Linked DNA regions of Homo sapiens: region 1 is linked to region 2. Evidence: fine-mapped expression QTL. A gene starts in region 2. The other region holds a variant in brackets. All regions are shown on one strand. Distances are from middle to middle.

Evidence for each region. PIP is the estimated chance that this variant, and not a neighbour inherited with it, causes the effect.
Region 1: its variant is the best candidate, but not a certain one, in a credible set for the expression of SFR1 in monocytes after R848 (Quach 2016, PIP 0.80).

The regions. Positions count from the first base shown.
Region 1 is chr10:104,139,880-104,149,226 of GRCh38, forward strand. CFAP43 (cilia and flagella associated protein 43) reads right to left here. Exons shown (of 38, transcript NM_025145.7): 29 at 8,012-8,119; 30 at 6,384-6,470; 31 at 5,597-5,685; 32 at 3,547-3,760; 33 at 2,402-2,514; 34 at 963-1,122. Among named protein-coding and RNA genes, the nearest start is that of SFR1, 22 kb to the left of the region's middle. RefSeq lists an enhancer at 6,912-7,443. The variant A/G (reference allele first, on the strand shown) is at 4,993.
Region 2 is chr10:104,118,172-104,127,437 of GRCh38, forward strand. It overlaps SFR1 (SWI5 dependent homologous recombination repair protein 1), which reads left to right and starts at 4,000. Exons shown (of 4, transcript NM_001002759.2): 1 at 4,000-4,025; 2 at 4,794-4,915; 3 at 5,543-5,953; 4 at 7,342-8,212. The coding sequence starts at 4,013. The coding sequence ends at 7,533. RefSeq lists enhancers at 2,063-3,262, 2,746-2,845, 3,418-4,081, 3,476-3,525 and a silencer at 3,766-3,995.

The DNA of each region.
Region 1 (9,347 bases), 22 kb after region 2:
GCAAAAAATAATAGCAATATGTTTTGTGTTTATAGCATTTGTAAAAATAAAATGTACAGTAGCATTATCATCTAATTCCCAAATAGCACAAAATCCGCAAATATTTAGAAATTAAATAACACGCTTTTAAATAACCCATGAATCAAATAGGAAGTCACAACAGAAATTAGAAAATATGTAAAAGAAAATTAAAACACAAAATATTAAAATTTGTAGAATACAGATAAAATAAAGCTTATAGGGAATATTTTTTTAGGACTCAATTATACCTAAAGCTTATACAGAAATAACATTAAATGTTCATATTAGAAAAGAAGTAAGGTCTGAAATCAACTAACTAAGCTTATCTAAGATTATCTTTGCCTGAGTAGGCTGGGCCTAAAAAAACGATGGCATACTAGAATGGACATTTAGCTCTGTGATCCTTCTTGAACCTTAGAATTATGGAGGGAGCTTTTAAAAAATACTCATCCTGGGGGTGGGGTCTGAGCACATTTATAAAGTTCTTCAAATGATTCTAATGTGCAACCACAGTTAGGAAACCACTGACTTAATTGAATTAAAATTACTTATGAAAATGGGAGAATAATGTAAAATATTTGGTACAGCAGGCAATATGTTTTGTCTTTAAACAAGTATAATTGGCCAGGTGCAGTGGCTCCTGCCTGTTAATTCCAGCACTCTGGGAGGCCAGAGCAGGAGGATCACTTGAGCTCAGGAGTTTGAGAACAGCCTGGGCAACATATTAAGACTCTGTTTTTACAAAAAACTAATTTTAAAACAATTAGCTGGGTGTGGTGGTGTGAACCTGTACTCCCAGCTACTTGGGAGGTGAAGGTGGGAGGATCTATTGAGCCTAGCTAAGGGTTAAGGCTGCAGTGAGCCATGATTGTGCCACAAGACTCTAGCCTGAGTAACAAAGCAAGACCTTGAATTAAAATAAAAATAAAAAGTATAATTACCCGAATCACAGAATTCAAGTCTTCAATTATGTTCTTGTTGATGAGAATTGCATCAGAATACTCCAGTACTAGCTGGAAATTTTCCAGTTCTACTTGTCCTTGTTTAAGAAGAATTTGGATTGTCAAATTCAACTGGAATCTCACTTTCTCTTCCTGTAATCTGAATTGAAAAGTACTTCAAAGCAAGTAGTTGTAATATATTTCAAATTTCACCTATTATCTGAGAATATAAAAATCGAATCAGCTTAAGGAAAACATGCTGGAGATTAGTGTGGAGAATATTTTCCTGATGATGAGCTTTCCTAGAGGTCTCTCTGAAACCTCTTCCTATTGATGCAGAATTATACCTGGGTTGCTCAAAAAATGGTATGGACAGAAATACATTTATAGATTTTTACTTTAGGATTAAGAAAAGATTGTATAATTTTGACGGTAATAAAAGTAAAGTAAAAATGAAGAAAATAGAGACACTTTTAAATAACAAATCTGGCCAGGCGCAGTGGCTCATGCCTGTAATCCCAGCATTTTGGGATGCCGAGGTGGGTGGATCATCTGAGGTCAGGAGTTCGAGACTAGCCTGGCCAACATGGCGAAACCCCATCTCTACTAACAATACAAAAATTAGCCAGGGGTGGTGACAGGCACCTGTAATCCCAGCTGCTTGGGAGGCTGAGGCATGAGATCTCTTGAACCTGGGAGGTGGAGACTGCAGTGAGCCCAGATCGTGCCACTGCACTCCAGCTTGTGTGACAGAGTGAGGCTCCATTTCAAAATAAATAAATAAATAAATAAAATAACTCTATTAAAATTCTGAACTTATTTATTGATTTCTGATACTATACTAACAATATTTAATATGTAAGTTACTTAACAAATCTATTTCTGGGTAATTCATATCCTCGCTATAGCCTAGATCTAAAAATGATGTGTTCTCAATGAATTTGGGAACATCAGAGAAGTATTTATCGATGAGGCTATAAATATAGCCAAAAAATGAAGCAAGGACTTAAATATCTTAATCACTTAGTAAACAACAAGTTCCCCTAAAGAAAAATATATCAGTTGGCTGCGTGTCTACATGGAAAGTTCTTAGACATCTGCTTAATTTTCCACATGGTTAGCTTATATGCCTTGAGCCCCAAAGTACTGAAAAACAGGTTCTTTGTATTTTTATGTGGAAGGGGCCGACTTAAAACAATACTAAGATTTTTCTGAAACTTGCTTATTTGTAATAAGAGCAACAAAACGTGGGAAAGTTCCATCCTGAATCAAGGTCTATGTAACAAAGCAGGCTTTTTAAAATAGAAATTTTAAAGCACAGTGCTGGAAGGGAGATGGCTGTAAAGCAGTCAGTAGGCATTCTCCCCAGTGATAACACAACCTGATTTAGCCCTAATTAGACTTTGAATAGGTGAACATGAAAGAAAGCTTCAAATTACAGGATGAGTTCATGGAACACTCTCTCAATCTCCTGTTGCACCTTCTCTTCCTCCTCAACTCTCTTCTGGAGGAAAGTTGCCATTTCCAATAAGTCAGCTGCTTTCTGCTTTACCTAAAGAAACCAAGCCAGAAACATGTCAGAACATATGGAGCTTCAATTTTAGACAACATACATCTTTTAACTTTTTAAATTTAAAAACCTTAACAGGTCTATCTTTCGAAGAAAGTAATAAAACATTTAAATTTAAATGTCTAAAACTTACATGGTATGTAACAATTTGAACGATTTGAAAGTATCAAATTTGCTTCTTGGTGAAAATCAAGTATGCAGGCAACTATAAATTCTTTTATATCTTATTTTTAAAATTTGTTCTCATCACTTTAAGTGAAATTATAGAATCCTAGGTACTTTAACAAAAATATGCCAGCCTGATGCATGTGGGCATTAAATTTAGGGAATTTGGGGTAGTGGTCAAGAAGCAACAAGAGGAAGGATTCTCTTCCCAAATAAAGACCCTCTTAAATTTTTACTCGTTGCCACATTCTAGCAAAACTATAAAGTTGGTTCTGCTGAGCCAAATATAATTCTAATCTATGCAAAATGAGATAACCTACAACAGTGCTGTCCAAGAAAAATATAACGTGAGCCATAAATGTGAGTCACATATGTAATTTTAAATTCTGTAGTAGCCGCATTATAAAAAGTGAAATCAAAGAAATGAACTTAATTTTACTAATATATTTTAATTAAATGTATCCAGAATATTATCACTTCAACCTATAATCAATATAAAAATATTAATGAGACATATTTCTTTTTGTTCATACTAAGCCTTCTAATGTGTATGTTTTCCACTTACAGCACATCTCAGTTAGGACTGGCAATATTTATTTCAAATGCATAATAACCACTTGTGGCTAATGGACACTATTTTGAACGGCACCAGTCTAAAAGCAACAGGCCTACACTTAGCCTTCAATAGCACCAGGGTTAATATAGTATTTCATTATCTTATTACTATGACCAAATACTACCCTAGCAGGGAAACCTAAATAATTAGCTTTTTTGGTTACACTGACCAATGTAAACTATGTATTTGATATTAGTACACTAAAAATTAAATTAAGTTAAAATAGTATATACTTTCTGTTCATTTTCCACTTTTGCTCGTCTTGTCATGCAGAAATGATTCCAGACCAAAGGGTCCAAGCCTTCTGGCATGTTACTAATATTGTCCAACTCATCCATAGCTTTCATTAACTGGGCAAAGGCATCCTTATTCAACTTGCCAGATCCTGGTAGTTCTCCGAAAGGGACAACGCTGGTTGTTTCTGAGTGCGTTTTCTGTTTGGAAATCCTGGTATTACCAAGAAAAGCCCATCAACATTTCACATTCTCATAAAAACATCAATGTGAAACAATTAGGCCCTTAGCACAGGCATAACACATTGTATGGCTCTTCCCTTTGCCATGTGATGGCTGGTAGGTGGGTTATTCCACAGATAAAGGGATCCACTTTGCCCTTCTTCCATACTCTCCAGGTTCTCAGACGTGACCTTGGCTAGACTACAGATGTCTCCAACTATTGTCAGCACTGACAGACAATTGTGTCTGTGCTAGGACACATTTCCTTTCTGTATACTGTAAGCAGGCAAATAAATCAACCCATCGTTTCACCTCAGCCTCCCAAAGTGTTGGGAGTACAGTGGTGAGCCACCACCTGGCCAATTCTGTTTTTATCTACATTAATAGATTAGTTTCATTTCCCTGTGCTTCAGCTGGAAAGGGAAGAAGGGTACAAAGATTTGGGCGAGGCACTCACTATCAAGATGCTTTACAGTACACTGTGAGGTTGAAACTATATTATCATCCCCATTCTCTAGATGAGGAAAGTCAGCCTGGGAGAGAAGCTCATGGCCCAAGGCTATCAGTCTGACAGGTGTTGAAGTTAGGATTTAAAGTTGATTCTGTTTGACAAGAAAGCTTGTGCTTTTCCCACTGCTGCGGGAGGTCTCACTTCTTTTTCCACAAGGAGAAGGTATGTAATTGGGCTAATTATCACTCACTCTTTTAAAAATAGGAAAACCGCCGGGCGAGATGGCTCACACCTATAATCCCAACACTTTGGGAGGTTGAGATGGGTGGATCACGAGGTCAGGAGATCGAGATCATCCTGCTCAACATGGTGAAACTCCGTCTCTACTAAAAATACAAAAATTAGCTGGGCGTGGTGGCATGTGCCTGTAGTCCCAGCTACTTGGCAGGCTGAGGCAGGAGAAACGCTTGAACCCGGGAGGCGGAGGTTGCAGTGAGCAGAGATCGTGCCACTGCACTCCAGCCTGGGTGACAGACAGAGACTCCGTCTCAAAAAAAAAGGAAAACCAAAACAAGAGGCATGTTCTAGGTTAAATTCCCTAGGTTGCCTATAACCTGTCAGAGTTTGTATCTCAAACACAAACTAGCTGACTACATCTTTGTGACAAACTCCTTGATTTCTAGATTACATTTGATTGAAAACTGGAAATCTGCATTTATAATGGTGGAAATCAGTGATACTTTCTTAGAACTCTTTTCAAATGGTTATTTTCT[A/G]CCATTTATACTGGCATCTTTCAAACTTTAGGCACAAGCACATGAGATACTCTGAGGAAAAGCAATTTGTGGTCAAATAAGTTTGGAAAACGCTGCTTACTCTGTTTCTTACACTTGGAGATCCAAAGGCCAATAATACATTCTGCAGTAAAAGAAAAGCTGCTTAACTTCCTTTTTTTAACCCAGTATTTTCCCCAAACTTAGTTAGTCCTGGAAGCCTATTACAAGTAGTTCCGATTTATACATCAGGGAACTTGTGTTTGTTTGAACGCACTTTAGAAAAAACTGTTTTTAAATCTGTGTGCCATCTATGATGTAAGAGGAACTTCCTTAATGTACAAAGCAGAATCTACAATAGTACCGTGCTTACACAGATCCTTAACTATTTTTAAATAATGAAAATAAATCATTATTCTCTACCTTAAGATATAGACATAATCTCAAAAAATACTGAATTAGGATCAAAACCCTTAAACATCTCCACCTAAAAGATATTACACTGAATAATTCCATTTAATTGGGAGAAAAAAGCTGAAATCTAGTAACACTCCTCTTTATTTGCAAACTTTTTTCTCAGAAACACAATAGTGAAGGAGAAACAAACCTTGGTCGGCGTTTAAAAAGTTTGTAGAGTATATCCACTTGATGACCAGGAATTTCAGAAAATTCCTTTTTAAAGCTGCGATCCATAACCTAAGGACAAACATGACATTTGAGGACTGCAACTTGGTTTGGAAACCTTTTATTTGTTGACAATACTCTTCAAAATACAGGTGGTAGCACTTTGGTTTTAAAAATGCATGAAACCTTGATTTACAAAGTTGTTAGACATTAACCATTCTCTGTGCAATGATGTCTCAAAGATTTGTTTTGATAAGAAGCATCTAAGTGTATTAAAAATATTATTTCATATAACAGGTCTTAGAAATCATCCAGAAGTTTCCCAAAGAAGTGTCCCAAAATATATTTACCCAAAAAACATGAATGTTACTCTATTCTTTTCTTTTCTATTCCATTCTGTTCCATCTGTCTTCTTTATGCTATTCTATCCTATTCTTTTCCATTATAAAACTGCTGGTCATAACCTACTAAATTGATTTCATGGCCAAGTAATGGGGTCTGCAACCTAAAGTTTGAAAAGCCTTAAAGGCTAGATGATTTCCCTGTATTTTGTATAACAGAAAGCTTAAACCAGAGAAGCTTATAAAAATTCATTTTACACATGGATTTTCAAAAATATACAATGGCATAGAATGAAGTTCACCCATAGCTGAGAATTAAGTGGGAGAAAAATCTGTGAGAAAATTATATTATATCCCCTTTAACCTTCCTCCAATCCAGGCAGCAACAACTCTACTGCATTGTTGAGTGGGTAAGACAACAACTCTCACTTTGTCTTCTGCCAGTAAGTTGTCATAGTGCTCCTTGCACACATCCAGGTCTTCTCTAGATTTCCGAACAGCTTCTGAAGTCTGGCTCTATAACAGCATCAGGAATAGTTGATTGAAACTGGAGACTTTCCAGCATAAACAAAAATATTGGGGATACTAAAAAGAGCAAGGAATTTCCTAGTACAAGAGAAATATGTCTGTGAAGTATTTATTCATGAAGATAAGATTTATAGAAGAAAATACACCAATTGGGGACTTTGAAAGAACACCCAATCACCTGTTTCTAAGTACAGCCAACTCTGTGTATGAGTGTGTGAGTGTCTATGGAGCACACTGCATTCTTGGTAAGTCAGTGTGGAGGATGAAAGTGCACAGGCTTCGGAATCACATGGACCTGGGTTCTGAGAGACTGGATATACATGCAAACAAGGGCCAGACCATATGTAACAACAGAATTCTGACCCACAACCTCTACAATCATCAGCTGGGAAACTAAACCACAGCCTTTTTAAGGATTGGCCTCAAACTTTCAGGGCTTGATCATTACCACCAGCTTCTATAATTTTGTCCCCATTTCCAACCTAGGACCATCCAGAGAAAGCCAAATATGTTCCCTAAACCAGTAAAATGAGTTGTCCCGCTTCTAATTGGTTTGCCTCTAGCTTCCTCATGCCAACAACTTCCAATGATGTTGCATCTGAAGCCCTCTCTTCTTTGCACTATAAAGCTTTCCTACTCCTTTCCTGCCTTTGAGTCTGCCAAAAGTAACTGATGGTGGATGAGTCCCTTGCTGTGCCAAGCTCTGAATAAACAGCATCTGCTCATTTGCATTTGGATGTTCTTCACTTATTCCCACAGTTCCAGCTGCTGCTCTATTACACACTAGTGGCTGACTTAGGCATGCTACCCAGACTCTCTGAGATGGTATCCTCATCTGTGAAAGAAATCTAGTATGCTGCAGGGTTGCTATATGTAAAGTTGTATTTAGAAGAAGCTTTGCATATGCTGTTTAATAGGCTCTTAGAAAAAAGTTCATGTCATTTTTAAGTCACACATTCATAAATGCTCTTTACTAATACTACTAACAAAAGCTGACATTTGTAGAAACATTATGTGATAAACATTTTGTATTCATTGTCTTTTTAATGAACCATATCTATCCAAGCTCATATTTAGAGTTTTTCATAATACGGCAGTTTTTCATTCTATACGCAAGCCCATTGCTTACATCTTAGTAAATCTTAGCGTGTCCAGAGAGAAAAACATTCCCTAGGTAAGAGCTTGCAAATAGCTTAAAAGGTTATATGCCTTGTCCTAGGTCCCACAGCCAGTGCTTTCAACCATGAAGCTATATGGCCTCATTTTATAAACCATGTCATATGAAAGCTACACAGTTCTTTTGGCTAAATGATTGCAGATGCAGAATCACCTAACTTTATTAACAGATTGGAATGGTTACTTTCACCTGGCCCTGGAGCAAAGTTCCAGACAGGGAGCCAAGGGATGCACATGGTTATGTAGGAATGGTGCAAGGAAGGAAGGAAGGGTCTAGACACGTGAGCTCTTGCTAAATGAGGGGCATGTCTATCAGAAAATGCTTGTATTCAGATTTCAGACACTATTCTTACTTTCTCGTGCTGTTTCCTTGTAAGGTAGTTGTTCAGGAATTTTTCTCTAGAGCTTAATTCTTCATCCAACAATAAAGAAAATGCAAGGTTACTTATTTTCAGTTCCTCCTGTAGAAATATTTAAGAAAAAGGTTGGTGGAATTACTTCCACCTGAGACAATATTTTCTATAGACTTGGCACTAATCAAGCAAGTTTATGACATACACATAAACTTTAAAATGTAAGAGAAACATTTTAAAGAAAAAGGGAATACAGCTTATTGAAATAACTTCAGTTATTTTACCTTTTTCATAATTTCATTGTAAGGTAAATCACATATACAAAAAATACATAACATGAATATATAATTTAATGGGTTATTATAAAGGCAAACACTCTTGTTAGCACCACTTATCGCAAGAAACAGAACTTTACGACTGCAGTTGCTTCTTCCAGGAGTCCTCATCAAAATCTCAACCCCAGTACTAAACACTATCTTGACTTTTTATTATATATTGTGTTTCTTTGTAGTTTTATTACCCAGGGGTGTATAATGCTGTAGTTTGGATATTTGCCCCATCCAAACTGCATGTTGAAACGTGATCCCTGGTGCTGTAGGTGGGGCCTCATGGGAGGTGTTTGGGTCATGGGTATGGGTCCCTCATGAATAGATCAATTCCCTCCCTCAGGGGTGAGTGAGTTTATACTCTATTAGTTCCCCTGAGTGCTGATTGTTAAAGAGAGGATGGCACTCCCCTGCACCCTCTCTTGCCTCCTCTCTGACCATGTGATTTCTGCACACCCCAGCTCCCCTTCACCTGGCATAAATGGAAGCGGCCTGAGGCCCACATCAGATGCCCAATCTTGAACCTTCTAGACAGCAGAATTATGAGTCAGATAAACCTCTTTTCTTTATAAATTATGCAGCCTCAGGTATTATTTATAGCAACACAAAACAGACTAAGACAGAAACCTAGCCACTTCAGTATAACTTATTCATAATTTTTTTTCATGTCTTTTAAATCTCTTTTTACTACCTGGATGATGAAATAATCTGTACAACAAACTCCTGTGACATGAGTTTACCTACGTAACAAACCTATACATGTACCTCTGAACTTAAAGGTTAAAAATAAAATAAATCTCTTATACTCTTCACGTTCCCTTTCATTTCTTTTCCTCATAATTTATTTGTAGTTATCAGCAGTCTCTGTAGCATTGCAGAGTCTGGTTTTAATGCCTGTATATTCATGGTGTAGTTTATCAAGGCTTCATCCTTTTTATTTCTTGAAAAATGGCAGCTGGGTCCAGAAGCCTGATTAAATCTAAATTTGATCCTTTTAACAAGACTATAGG
Region 2 (9,266 bases):
ATACTGATCCTCTCCGTATCTCCGTGTTCTAAGTAACCATCCTACTCAGTGAGGCAATCGCTCCGGCATGCCTAACAGCTATGTCAAGGGCCCTTTTCTCTTGAAGTTGATAATAAAACCCTCTCTTGCATATCTTGGCTAAAGAATATGAAATAGTTAAATCATAAAGGTCAATGTTTGGTAACAAAGTCTCTACAAGTGCAGCCATTACACATTATGGAATTCCATGTGAGATCGTTAAGGTAATAGAGAAAAAAATAGAAATATTTGTCAATTATTCTCAAAGAGAAATTTATGAAATTACACAGCACTAAAACATCACTTTACCATGGATGGGTCTATAAGATGCGACTTGAATTCATGGCAAGAGAAACTCATAGAAGAGTTTTTGAAGGGCATTTTCAACTTATGTACAAATGTCATAAGAAGTGTTGAAAGTCAGTTAAGAGAATTTGGCAGATTTTCTTGTGTTATAAATTTGTATTAAATTTAGTTTGTTTAATTTGTCCTAATGGACATCATAAATCAACAGAATCATGTGGATTTTACACAATTCCTCACCCAAGTGGATTTTAATCCTAGTTTCAGAAGCGTATATTTTTATCTTTGTTTCTTTTTTTTTTTTTTTTTAGAAGGAGTCTCTGTCGCCCAGGCTGGAGCGCAACGGTGTGATCTCGGCTCACTGCAATCTCCGAATCTCCGCCTCCCAGGTTCAAGCGATTCTCCTGCCTGAGTCTCCCAAGTAGCTGAGACTACAGACGCCCACCACCACGCCCAGCTAATTTTTGTATTTTTAGTAGAGACAGGATTTCACCATATTGGCCAGGCTGGTCTTGAACTCCTGACCTTGTGATCAGCCCGCCTCGGCCTCCCAAAGTGCTGGGATTACAGGCGTGAGCCACTGCACCCGGCCTATGTATTCGTTTCTTTTAAAAAAAAACCTATGGATACTAGTTATGTCTACATGACACAAAAATTTTTGTCAATACAGAAAAGTCTATGGTAATATAATTTAAGTTAGCTTGAGACTATTGTTAAGATTAAAAAATAATACTAAAGCTGAGAATTTAAAAATTAAAATGAACATTTTAATTATGGCTAAAAAGTACGTGTGTTTGTGCTTTTTTGTATAGGTAGAGAGAGAGACTGAGAGACTATTTACTATTCTTTTCTTGCCATTAGACAAGAATAAGAATAAAAAAAATTTTTTTGTAAAACCTCATAAAGATTTTAGGTCTATATCATCATCCCACCAACAATAATTACAGACAAGAACGAAGCATTTTACCACTCCCTGATGAGTAACAAAGTAGCCAACAGTAGCCTTGGGTATTGAAGAAATTTTAAAACACAAGGAAAGCCTGACTTAAGTTGATATTAATTACTATTATTATTGGAGTCTACTGCTTAAATTGTTCTCTATGGCAGGGTAAGGAGTCTTTGCTTCCTGGCTCACTGGGCCAGTATTTTTTCCTGCCTGAAAAGTTTCATACGAAACATACAATGTCCTGTGTCAGAAACACCAAAGTCTTCACAGGCTAATAGATTTGAAGTCACTTAAGACATTGAAATGTACGCTATGCTTTATCTAAAGGTACAATTAAAAGTATGGGGGCTATATTCCAGATCTCTGACATGAAGCCGAGAGGAAACTGGATTTCCAGTTTGTTATGTGAAAAGGTTAAGTAAAATACAAACTTCTGTACAGGGAGATAATTCAGTTCTAATAATGCATGAAAGCCAGAGATGTAGATCAACAAATGCACATTTCTGAAATACGGGTTTTTCTGAGTATATGTTCTGAAGTTCTTTGAAAATCTGGCCAAACAATCCCATTTTAAGATACCAGTTCACATAATAAGCAAGTCAGAACATTTGCAAGGCAAAATGTTGTTTTCCTTTCTGCAGCCAGGAAAAACACAGCTCTAAGCTTAGGTTGTAACGGTAAAAGGATTTGGGAGCTGCTGATTTTAGAGACTCATAAAAACAACTCGCCCTTATGCCGGGAGGTATAAAGAATATGCAGAGTCTGCACTGTGCTTCTAGTGTCAGGACAAATCATTCTGCTTTTTCTTTGAGATTAACTGATGCCAATGGATGAGTAAAGGGAGAAATAAATGTACAGACTGAGACCTGCAGCTTGGTGAGGTGAGTAACACCTTTATCACAAAATCATGAGTTCTCTCTTCCCCTTTGTAAATTCCTTGGGGTTAACTTATGTAATTTTAAAAAATTTTAGGAGTGAAATATGTATTATTAATCATATGTGAGGCTCTACATTTTCTGCTATTTATGGTTTATATTGTGTGGGATCTTACAGATCACAGCATCTTTTTAAAATATATGTGCTTTTTTGGGGGGTGGGAGATAAATCAAGGGGTGAAACTGAAGGTGATACATTCCCTTAAATCCATTAGGGAATGGTGAATACACTTGCATATATAAAATAACTACTGAGTGCTTCCTAGATACCTAGCTCTGTTCCAGCTGCCTCTCACCAGTTCTCATTTAATTCTCCAATCCCATATTAAGAGGTGAAGAAACTGAGGCACAGAATCACCTCATTAAGAAGCACATAAAGTATGGTGCCAGGATTTGAACCTAGACAATTTGACTGTAACGTGTACGCCCCTAATCATTCCCTTAGGTAGTCCTCAGGTTCTGTAATTATTATACCTGACTGCTTAAGACTCAGGTAACTCCCTTTTGGCCACTTCTAAGCCACTACTGTCAGATGTTATTAATAGTAAAGAGACGATATCAATGTTTAAAATGGCCATTCAATAAGAGGACTGAAAACACTGGCCCCTGGAAATTCCCAACTTCCACGTGACTCAGAAGTTACTCAACTCTTTCACTAAACCCAGTGCTCCACCCAATGTAGCTAACTTTGTCGTCGCGTAGCAACAGAACCTCGCCATACTGGAAGCGGGGCGCGGGGGGGGGATTTTCTCGACTGAGGATGCTGCTGCCCGGTAGCCAGCAAGGGCCCTGTCGGTCTCAAACGTGAATTTTGGACCGACACAATCTCATGTAGTGATTGTTCTGCTTCCTGTGTTGCGCCACAACAAATTTCCTTGGGCTACATTTTCCCTCAGATTTGAGTAAAAGATTTGAGGTCACGCTAAGGAGCCTGCATACTGAGGTACAGAAACGGTTTTTTGTTTACAACAACAACAAAAAACCTCGCGACGGGACCGCCGAGTTTGCGGCAGCCAAAAAAGCTAGCGATGAGCTCAGCTAAAGTGCCGGGACTCTCGGATAGATTTCTAACATGTTTGAAATGTGGACCCCAACGCTGGAACCCAACGCTGTTCTTTTGTGGTCTCTGGAACCACCACGCTGGAATAGGCTGGAACCCAACCAACGCTGTTCTTTTGTGGTCTCTGCCTCTGGGGAGTCCACAAGCTGTAAATCTAACATGCAGCCAGCCGTGCGGCTTCTGGCCGCCCCACGTCTGAGTAAAGCCTTCACTGTGACTAGCAGGGAGAGGAGACTGACTGGAGCCAGAGAATGGAGGCGGCGGGCTGGCGGGGGTGGGGAGAGGCACTTTCAGGCGCACTTCACAGACGCACAAAAACAAGGAAGCCTGAAGGGAAGGCGGTTGAAAATAAGGCAACAGAAGCCGCGAACGGAAGCGCGCCCCCCTCAGGATTGGTTTAACATTCCGAAGCTCAGCCTCGCCCGCCCCGAAGACCTGCTGCGGATCGCGGCCGCGCGCGCGCGCACTCACGCTGCTCTCGGGCGCTGGGCGGGGAGAGCCGCGCGCACCGGTTAATTCTGCCAATCATGCGTCTGGGCCTCCCATCGTGTGGGCCAAGCCCCGCCCCAACCACCCGCTGGCGGAGGCGCGCGCGCAGTCCCACCGCTCTGAGTCGCTGAGTGAAGCGGCGCCTCGCGCGTCAGGCAATCTGGCCAATTGCGCATCTTTTCCGCCTACCGCACGGCCCCGCCCCTGCCACAGGATCGATTTACGGCCGCAGGTGCGCGCGCTTTTTTGCTCTCGCTGGGAATGGCGGAGGGAGGTACCCTGCTGAGGGGAAGGGGGGATCCCTGACACCTGGGCTTCCCCGGGAGTCGGCTGTGGAGTCGAGTTGAGCTCCCTTTCCGGGTCTGGGGAACTCAACCTCACCTTATGCCTGGGGTCTCCGGGGAACTAGTGGGCTTTCTGCAACGGGGGGAAGGAGGGGACGACTCCCGCCCCTAGTTTACCCCTCAAAAGTTAATGCCTTTGTCGGAGGAAGCAATTTCAGTCCACTCTCCTTTTCAGTCCCTGTTGGCCGCTTAAACTAAAAGGCTACAGACGGGCTTAAATGCGTCTCCGCTGTGTTTCTTATGCCTCGGGCCGGCAGGGTAACGGGTTCTAGTCACAGCTTGTAGAGTTCAGGATGGGTGACATTCAGGTCCTATTGTTTTTGAGTCAAGGTTTCGGCTATAGCTTCTTGAATTATGAAGCTGTCATAATAAAGAATTCCTGATTATCTAAAGCTGTTATTCTTCCCTACTTCCAAGGCAGAATTTGAATATATTTTGGTGGATGAAACGAAAACAAGGAGAGTCTTGTGACTATGAGATACTAGCTGGTTGATGTATCATGAAAAACTTAGTGGTCCCTATGTGGGAAGGTAAATGGAAAACTGCAAAAAGAGCAAGAATGAATTACAAAGTGAAATTAGAAGAAATATCTGGCTTACTTGTGGATGCTTTGTACACCAATACAATATATTATTTGATAAAAGTCGACTATAGAGAGGTGTGGTTAATTCGATTATTTTATAATTTTTCTTTTTTAGAGAAAAACCAAGATTTCACTTTCAAGATGGAAAGTCCGTCAGACTCAGCTGTGGTTTTACCTAGCACTCCTCAGGCCTCTGCGAATCCATCATCTCCCTATACAAATAGTTCCCGAAAACAAGTATGAAAATCTTTGTTCTTCCAGTGGATCCATTATGTGTTTCTAAGTATTGTGGCAGTGGTGGTTTAAATTCTACGGAAGGTTGTTAATTAACATAATGTGTAGCATAAATAAGTAGACATTTTATTAAATAATTTTGTTTTTCTTCTAAGGTGACATATATGACACCCACCAGCCCCCTTCCATATTTTCCTCTTGAATGAATTCATTTCAGTTAGTTTCAGATTAGGTTATTACAATACTCCAGATGGAGAAAGTTTGCATCTGTGCAATATTATTATGAAGGTCTTTAGTGGCAGAGTCTAGGTCTTTTCCTTACTCTGTAATTCTGAAGCACCTGGAGTACTATCAGGCATGTGCTTGTTACTGAACAAATGTTCCTTGATTACTGGGATAAACTTCTCAACACTTTTGGAAAGGTGTTGATCTTGCTGAAGTAAAAAGGAAATAAAACAAATGGAGCTTCCAGAAATTAAAGTCATTTTGTGATGCCTTCTTTAGATGTGGAGACAGAAAGCCATCTAGTGGTGTCTAGCATAGAAATGGAAGGACTTTATTTCTGGTGATTTATTGACATTAAGAATGTTTTTCTTGATTCACATTTTTAATGTTTTGTGCTCTTTATAGCCTATGAGTGCAACACTTAGAGAAAGATTAAGGAAAACAAGATTTTCATTTAATTCCTCTTACAATGTGGTGAAACGTCTTAAAGTAGAGAGTGAAGAAAATGATCAGACCTTTTCAGAGAAACCAGCATCTTCCACAGAGGAAAACTGTTTGGAATTTCAAGAAAGTTTTAAACATATAGACAGTGAATTTGAAGAAAATACAAATTTGAAAAATACTTTGAAGAATCTCAATGTCTGTGAATCTCAGTCACTTGATTCTGGATCATGCAGTGCTCTCCAAAATGAGTTTGTGAGTGAGAAGCTTCCTAAACAAAGATTAAACGCTGAAAAAGCCAAATTGGTGAAGCAGGTTCAGGAGAAAGAAGACCTTCTTCGGAGGCTAAAACTAGTCAAAATGTATAGATCAAAGGTGAGAAGAATTTCAGGACCATTGCATAATTTTTATTTTTACATAAATTACAGGAAAGTAATTTCAAAAATAGAATTTTTTTTTTTACCATAATAAGCAATAAGCCAAATATTCAGAAACCTGGCTTCCAACAGCTTTAATTCAACTCCAGATTTAGAGTAGAAAAGGCCCTTAAACACCAGGTAAAACTTTTTAAGAATCTCAGCTCTGATTTAATATGCAGTTAAACTTTTCTCTCTAGTTTCTAGCCCACAGCAATATTAGAAGTATTAAATGTTAGATGCAAGTACAATGGGAACAGAAGTGAAAGCTGACAGTGAATTAGTAAAACTAAAAATGGGCTGTAGAGTACAATAAAAGGTATTTTTAGTAATGATCTTGTGTCTCCCCCAAATAATTAATGTGATTCAGCCATTTTATTTGAGAAAATATATATATATATATATTATATTTTAGATTTCAACCCATATAGGTTGAATTAAATAGAACTTGGGTACTTGGAAGGAGAATAATCTTTATTACCTGGAAAATTCATATATATGCAATAGCTCATTTTCCCTGAATTACGTGGAATAAGTGATGGGATAGTGTATCTCATTTGTTCTCTTGAAATTCTGGAGTTTTTAAAAAATAAAATTTAGGAGTATTGAATGTTGAAAAAATATATTTTATTTATTTATTCATTCTTTTTTTAGAGACATGGTCTCTGTTGCCCAGCCTGGAGGGCAGTGGTGCAGTCATAGCTTATTGCAGCCTTGAACTCCTGGGCTCAAGTGATCCTCCCAACTCAGCCTCCCTAGTAGCTGGGACTACAGACATGTGCCATCACACCTGGCTAATTTTTTAAAATTATTTTTTTGTAGACATAGAGTCTTGCTATTTTGCACAGTGTAGTCTTGAACTCCTGGGCTCAAGCAGTCCTCCCACCTTGGCCTCCTAAGGTGCTGGGATCCCAGGTGTGAGCCACCATCCCCAGCCTAAAAAAATATTTTTAACTTGAATATTGTAATTTTAAAGAGCAGTTTTAGGTTCATAGCAACATTTAGTGGAAAGCATAGTGTCATTTTTTAAAAAGTACAGTTGTAATACAGTAGATTTTTCCCTGTATTATTGCTTCTTGACATAGTTTTGGCCCTATTTAATGATTTGATTTTTCCCTTATCATAAAGATGGCCCAGAGCTTAAGCCAACAAAATAGCCATAGAACTCAAGTTGAGTGACATTGTAACCATTCTACATATGACCATCCTACTTTTTCCTAGATAGAAGTCCCATTCATCCCTGTGTATGTTAGCCTTTAAACCTGCACATCCACTAATTTAACAACTTTAATTAAGTTGAACTAGCATGACTAGTTATTGACATACATGTTTTTTTTTCTGTTTCAGAATGATCTGTCTCAGTTACAGTTGTTAATAAAGAAGTGGAGAAGCTGTAGCCAGCTCTTGCTTTATGAGTTGCAGTCAGCTGTGTCTGAAGAGAACAAGAAACTAAGCCTTACTCAATTGATAGACCACTATGGGTTAGATGATAAATTACTACACTATAACAGAAGTGAAGAAGAATTTATAGATGTTTAATTCCTGATTTTTGCTCCAGAATATCTTTGAGAATGACAACTTAATTAAAAGATACTTAGGCACTTTTTTTTTTTTTTTGAGACTGAGTTTCGCTCTTGTCATCCTGGCTGGAGTGTGATGGTGCGATCTTGACTCACTGCAACCTCTGCCTCTCGGGTTCCAGCAATTCTCCTGCCTCAGCCTCCCGAGTAGCTGAGATTACAGGCGCCCGCCACCATGCCCGGCTAATTTTTGCATTTTTAGTAGAGACTGGGTTTCACCACGTTGGCCAGGCTGGTCTCGAACTCCTGACCTCAGGTGATCCACCGCCTAGGCCTCCCAAAACCATTAGGGCTCAGAGGAAGGTATCCCAATGAATATCAATTAAGGGCACTTTAATATATAAATTATAAACTAAGTTCTAAAAGGAAAATTAGTATTTTGGATAGATTTGTCAAAACGACATTTAAGTCATGTTTAAAAAGTCATTTGGGCAGTTCTGGAAACTAGTTTTAATACATTTGTTTTTTATGACAAAAAGTTTTATTTTAAATGTTAAAAATTGTCCAATCTGGTGAATGTCTAACCCTAAAGTTTAAAAATTTCTGCCTCCTAAGTTTATGTACCTTGTTTCCATCCATTTACCACATATTTCCATCTGATAGTCTAGCAGGTAATTAAACTTATATGTCCAAAACCATATTCTTCCCTGTCTCTTCAAATGTGTTTTGCATATTCATCATTTAGTGAAACAACCATCTATTTCTTCTTCTTTTTTTTTTTGAGACAGAGTTTTGCTCTTGTTGCCCAGGCTGGAGTGCAATGGCACGATCTTGGCTCACCGCAACTTCCGCCTCTGAGGTTTAAGTGATTCTACTGCCTCAGCCTCCCGAGTAGCTGGGATTACAGGCATGAGCCACCACCCTGGCTAATTTTGTATTTTTAGTAGAGACGGGGTTTCTCCATGTTGGTTAGGCTGGTCTTGAACTCCTGACTTCAGGTGATCTGCCCGCCTCAGCCTCCCAAAGTGCTGGGATTACAGGCATGAGCCACCACACCCGGCTAAACCATCTACTTCTTATAAAACTACATTTCCTTATCTCCCACCCACATGAAGGTATCATGGCATATAAGGTTCTTCGCATTTGTTTGCCTTTCTAGCTTCATCTGTGAAATGGGTTAAATTTAGATTGGTTATTCTATTTATGAACCCACCTCCACAGGTTGGGTTTCTGCTGCCAAATTATACAGTTGTACCTATCATTTTGGCCATATATGGAGATAGGACCCAAACTGGGCCAGTCTCTGAAAATTTGGAATTTAGCTCAGGAAAAGAAAGCCCATCTCTTTTTGTGACTGCAGCTGTTGTATATATACCTGGAAGCAGCAGAGCTGACATGCTTAAGGGCAGTGAGTGTGCTTACCGAGAAAGGCAGAGGTGATAGGAGAGAATTTTATGGATCAGTGGCTTCCTGGTTTTAGTTGCTAGTCATTCTTAAGAGCTTTCTGGATTTCTGCTTTTGGGTCCTTTTAAGTGTTAAAACAGCTTTACTTAGCTTTTTCAAAAGCACTTCCCTACTAGTTTAGCACTCCTCTGAACCCCCCTCAAGTACATCCCACTTTCAGTCCAGTCCCTCCACATAATCTAACCAGTGTTGAATGGTTGGCACAGCAGGAGACGCCAGGGCCCTGCTTTTGTGTCCATTCTAATTGTTAGTGCCATGCCAGTAAACTCTTACCCTGCCCACATACAC